2 separate regions of the Homo sapiens genome follow, and region 2 is linked to region 1. Evidence: fine-mapped expression QTL. A gene starts in region 1. The other region holds a variant in brackets. All regions are shown on one strand. Distances are from middle to middle. Region 1 holds the start of SREBF2 (sterol regulatory element binding transcription factor 2). Region 2 overlaps MEI1 (meiotic double-stranded break formation protein 1).

The links. PIP is the estimated chance that this variant, and not a neighbour inherited with it, causes the effect.
Region 2: its variant is the best candidate, but not a certain one, in a credible set for the expression of SREBF2 in fibroblasts (GTEx, PIP 0.64).

Annotation. Positions count from the first base shown.
Region 1 is chr22:41,831,702-41,834,609 of GRCh38, reverse strand. It overlaps SREBF2 (sterol regulatory element binding transcription factor 2), which reads right to left and starts at 1,505. Exons shown (of 19, transcript NM_004599.4): 1 at 1,252-1,505. The coding sequence starts at 1,339. It overlaps CCDC134 (coiled-coil domain containing 134), which reads right to left. Exons shown (of 7, transcript NM_024821.5): 7 at 2,446-2,908. SREBF2-AS1 (SREBF2 antisense RNA 1) reads left to right here. Exons shown (of 2, transcript NR_157279.2): 1 at 1-167; 2 at 630-2,908. RefSeq lists silencers at 812-1,201, 1,262-1,601 and enhancers at 1,380-2,036, 1,642-2,151.
Region 2 is chr22:41,786,935-41,789,842 of GRCh38, reverse strand. All of the region lies in intron 26 of MEI1 (meiotic double-stranded break formation protein 1), which reads right to left. Among named protein-coding and RNA genes, the nearest start is that of CCDC134, 12 kb to the left of the region's middle. The variant G/A (reference allele first, on the strand shown) is at 1,704.

The DNA.
Region 1 (2,908 bases):
ATCTCTTCCCCCAAAAGAGAATCTTCTGCTGCTTCTGCTTCTTCATCTGCACAACGGGGATGTAGCCATCATACATGCCTGCAAGGCTGTAGTGAGATCCTGGACATGAAAGCATTCTGAAAACTGAAAAGTACAATGCACCTGTGTTTCTGCCTAAGCTCTCTAAGGTGAGTGGCCTTAGATAAGTCAACATCTCCTGGCCTCGGCTTCTTTAATTACCGTATTAAAATAGAGGTAATAAGAGTATCTCACAGGATTGTTGTGAGGAAGAAGTGAAATAATACAAAGCATTTTGGGGCCTAAACATAAGAGTGCAACTATCCAGTTAATAAGATTACTAGCCTAGTCAACTGGACTCTTTCTTGAAAGGAGGGGTATAAAAAAACCAATACTGGCCAAGGAACTGCAAGAACTAGGCTCTAACCAGCTGGGTGACCTTGAGCAAGCCGCTGACCCTCTCCAAATCGTTGTTCCCGTGGTCGCAAAATTAGTATTTTAAGAGTGGATCCCTGGGCTCCTACCAGCTCTTCCACTCCGCTGTTAAGGCGCTGGAACAAAGGCCACCCGCTCCCCAGCCCGTACCCGAGGGGCCACAACTCAAAATTTCTTCTGCTCAATTCCCCTTGCAGCGTGACAGCAGGAGCGCCCGGGTCTCCATCCCGGAGAGATGTGTCCACACTCCGCCGCCACTGCTCTCTTCATCAGCAACTTGCTTCTGCAGTCGCTGCCCAAAGTTTCGCGGAGCACCCGGCGACCTGGCCGTCGGTCAATCCTGAGAAGCCCAGGGATTCGGGGCGCGGAGACTGGGGGCTGGGCCCCGGGAATCCCAAAGACGTCCCCGCGGCCAGGAAGGGAGTGACAGGTGCGACGCGCGGTCGCGGGCGGCGGGAGAGCGGACCACGGAAACCGCGTGTGGGCGCGCGAGGGAGGCGGCGGCCACGCGCTCTCCTTAGGCCGCTCCCTGAGACGCCCCCGCGACGTCCCTAGCCCCGCGCTCTGGAACCCGCGACCCTCGCGCCGCTTTCGGCCCCGCGGCGCCCCAGATCCCACGGCCTCCCGGAGCGGCGCAGCTGGGTCGGGCTCACGCTCGCAGCGCCGGAAGGGTTGAGGACCGCCGGGGGCACCGTGCGCACGGGGTTCTTCCCGCGCGAACCGGGGCTGTCGGGGGGTGGGCGCACGCGCACCCGGGCGCGCCGCCGTAACCCCTTCCTCCCCGCGCGGCCCCCGCACTCCCACCCACCCACCACTCACCGTCGATGTCTCCCAGGGTCAGCTCGTCGCCCAGCTCCGTGAGGGTCTCCATGGTCTCCAGACCACCCAGCTCGCCGCTGTCGTCCATCGCCCGGCTCAGCGCAGAAGCCCCCCCTGCCGTCCCGCTCAGGGAGACGCGGGGGCGGTGCCGTCGCCACCGCCCATGACACCCGACAACCCCCGCCCGGCACCGCCTCACCGACGGGTGCCACCCGCCGCCATGTTTGCGTTGCGCCCGGGCGCCGCACAGAAAGGGCGGGGCGGGATTCCCCCGCCCCAGCCCGCGCCCCCTGCGGCCCCGCCTCCAGGCCGCGCGCCCCCCTGTTTGTTGTCAATGGGACCAGGCTCATCTCAGCCAATGGGCGAGCGAAGCGGTGCGTGGGGTGATGGCGCGTCATCGATCAGCAGCTCAGATTTGCATAGTGAGGTCCCTCCCCCCGCGGCCTCGGAGCGAATGCCTGGAGTAGCCGTCCGGTCATCATCTTAACCTTCTCCGCCTTGTTTAAAGGAGCCGCTGCCTTCTCCGTTGGATCTGCGCCACACGCAAGTCCGTCCACTGGCCTGGGAGTGAAGGGTTAACAGGCCACCCTCCACCTGCGACCGCTGGCCGCCTCCAGGCCTGGCTGGGAGCACATTACGTCATCTTCCCAGCTGCCTACCCCCGCCCTGCCCGCCTGAGAAAGCCAGCGGAGTCAAACCTGGACCCCAGCGCTCGGGACGGGAGTCCGGGTCATCCAAGTCCCGCTTCTCCCAGCCTCCTTACAAAGGCGGGCACGGAGGCTTGACAAGGTTGCAGATTGTCCCAGGGCGGTCAGGATTTTACGTCTTCTGCTTTGCACCCGCCGTGACCTCGCGCTTACTCCAGTGGTCCTCAATCTCTGGCACCTCGGAACCACTGAGGACCTGAAAACCACGCCAGTGCCCAGGCCCACCGACGGCCTCCTGAGAGGGGGGCCCCGGGCACGAGTTTTTTGAAAAAGTTCCACCGGGATTCTGAAGTGCAGCCCACCCACTCCTTCAAGCACCTCACTGCCCCATCTTGCAGCTGGTCGTGTTGTAAACTTCTAGGAATTTATCCAAAGGAATAAAAATTACAAGTGCTTAAAGAAGTGCTGTAACTAGGAAGAAGTGAGAATAAGGAAATGAATATGTAAATTACATCCACACGATGGAATACCATGGGATCATTAAAAATTACGCACACAAATGTATATTTATTAGCAAGAAAAGGCGTTCACAATATATTGATAAAAGGGAAAAGTTGAAGTTTCCTGCCAGTTTGTGAGAGGCAGCTGTTGCTTAGTGATCAATAATTAAGAACACACAGGCTGTGTGGAGGCAGACACATGGATCCACTAATTCACTGTGACCTTGGGTTAATTGTTCTAAGCCTCAGTTTAGTCATCTCTAAAATGGGGATAAAATAGCATCCCTCATAGCTGTGGTTAAGTGAGATTATTTGCACATTCAATTGACAATATTTATTGAACATCTCTGTGGCAGGGAAACAAATGGTTCCTGCCCTCTGAGAGCTTCCAGTCTAGCAAAAAAAAAAATCAGAAATCCCACACCCGTATTAAACATAAAAATAAATTACAGATGATGGTACAAGTGATCAAGGAAAGGTAATGGATGTGATGAAACTAACAAGGGCCCT
Region 2 (2,908 bases), 45 kb after region 1:
AGCAGGGTAGGCCCAGCACCTTCTACAGGGGGAGTCATGAGCTTCTCAGGTTGGGTTCCCCTTCCCAGGGACTGTTGAGGACAGACAGTCAAAAACTACCAGAGAGACAAATACAGGATTCCACTTACATGAGGTCCCTACAGTAGTCAAATTCATAGAGATAGCAAGTAAAATGGTAGATGCCAGGGGCTGGGGGAGGGGACTGGGGAATTGTTTAATGGGTACAGAGTTTCAGTTTGGGAAGATGAAAAGATCTAGAGATGGATGATGGTGAAAGTTGCACAACAATGTGAATGTACTTAATGCCACTGACCCATATACTTAAAATGATTAAAATACTAAATTGTATGTTATATATAGTTTACTACAATTAAAACAAGGCCAGGTGCAGTGACTCACACCTGTAATCCTAGCACTTTGTGAGGCCAAAGCCAGAGGATTGCTTGAGCCCAGGAGGTCAAGACCAGCCTGGACAACATAGTGAGATATCATCTCTACGAAAGTATTTTATTTTTTATTTATTTATTTTTTGAGATGGAGTCTTGCTCTGTCACCCAGGCTGGAGTGCACTGGCATGATCTTGGCTCACTGCAACCTCCACCTCCCGGGTTCAAGTGATTCTCCTGCCTTGGCCTCCCAAGTAGCTGGGATTACAGGTGCGCGCCACCACGCCCGGCTAATTTTTTTGTATTTTTAGTAGAGATGAGGTTTCACCCTGTTGGCCAGGCTGGCCTCAAATTCCTGACAAGTGATCCGCCCGTCTTGGCTCCCAAAGTGCTGAGATTACAGGCATGAGCCACTGCGCCTGGCCTTACTACCAATACAAAAGTATTTTAAAATTAGCTGGGCATGGTGGTGTATACCCGTAGTCCCAGCTATTCAGGAGGTTGAGATGGGAGGATCACTTAAGCTCAGCAGGTTAAGGTGGCAGTGAGCCATGATCATGCCACTGTACTCTAGCTTGGGCGACAGCAAGACCCTATCTCAAAAATAAAAATAAACAGTTGCCAGAGGCAGAGTTGAATGTCACAGGCCAGGGAGACACCTAGGCTCTTGGGCATGAGAGGCGAATGGTGAAAGTGCTATACAATACTTCACTGGTGGCTGGGCACGTTGGCTCACACCTGTAATCCCAGCACTTTGGGAGGCCGAGGTGGGCAGATCACCTAAGGTTGGGAGTTTGAGACCAGCCTGGCCAACATGGTGAAACCCTGTCTCTACTAAAAATACAAAAATTAGCCAGGCATGGTGGCACACACCTGTAATCCCAACTACTCAGGAAGCTGAGGCAGAAGAATCGCTTAAACCCAGGAGGTGGAGGTTGCAGTGAGCTGGGATCATACCACTGCACTGCAGCCTGGGTGACAGAGCAAGACTATGTCTCAAAAAAAACAAAACAAAACCCACAAACCTCACTGGCACCCCACCCTAGTGTTTAGGCTATTGGTTTGAAGAAGGCTTTTTCATCACTCAAGGCCCAGTTCAAATGCTACCTCTCCTGTGCAGCCTTCCAATACAGGTTGAGGCTGGGCACGCCTGTAATCCCAGCACTTTGGGATGCCGAGGCAGGTGGATCACTTGAGGTCACGAGTTCGAGACCAGCCTGGCCAACATGGTGAAACCTCATGTCTACTAAAAATACAAAATTAGCCAGGCATTGTGGTGCGTACCTGTAGTCCCAGGTACTTGGGAGGCTGAGGCAG[G/A]AGAATCACTTAACTCAGGAGGCAGAGGTTGCAGTGAGCTGGGATTGCACCACTGCACTCCAGCCTGGGTGACAGAGCGAGACTCCATCTCAAAAACAAACAAAAAAACAAATACTGGTTGAGTATCTGTAATTAAAAATTTGAAATCTGAAATATCCCCATATCCAAAACTTTTGAGCACCAACATGATGCTCAAAGCAGATGCTCATTGGGCATTTCGGATTTTGGACTTTTGTATTAGGAATGCTCAACTGCTAATAGGTCATTTTGGTATTAGATGTAGTTATTTGTGTTTCCTATAATCTGTGAGTGCCTAAATGGCTGGGATCATGTAATGTTAATTTCTGTGGTTTTCATCCATTCAACAAACATTCCCAGATGCCAACTTTGTGCCAAGCTCTGTGCTGGGTATTGGGAAATCATTCCCCCCACACCTCCTGTTCTGAATCTTAAAACAGGAACATCAGCGCTTTTAGAAACATTAGGGAGAAAGCATTTCCCTAACTGGCCCTCCTCACCCAAGGAAGGTTTTATCTAGCAGGCAAGATACTAGCTTAAGATCTACTGTGCCATCAGGGCAGGATTAAGGTATTAAAGATTATGCTCCCATGAACTTAAACTCTTAAGATCCTGGCCAGCTGGCTAAGTGTCCATAATGCAAACACAGTTTTTCCCGCCTGTGGACCCCTGGTCTGGCAAGAAGGAGGGTGTTTTAAAAAGCTCATTTTGGACAGATATGATTAAGCAAGTATAATAAAATGTTATTAGTAGAATCTAGGTGTTGGGTGTATGAATGTTCACTGTAAAACTCTCTCATTGCTGTATGTTTGAAAAACTGCAGGAAAAAAAAAGCCCATTCTGTTCCAGAGTCCCAGCCAATATTCTACTATGATGTTTACCAGCAATAAAGCTTATGTTTTGGTTCTCATCTGATTCCTGCATTCTAAATTAGCTTTAAACCCACAAGGGGAAGGACACACAAAGATTAACCAGACCCAGACTCTGCCCTTGAGTATATCACAGCCTGGTTGGGGGAATAGTGATATGAAAATGGAAACTTGAAACAGAGAGCTAAGTGCTATAATAGGATAGATGTTTGATCCCTAAAGAGCACAGAGCCTTGTGCAAGGATGTGCCACAGGACAAGACTCAACAACCGCTAACTCAGCATAGGGCCCACTCCTGGGACATCTTCCTGGGGCCCC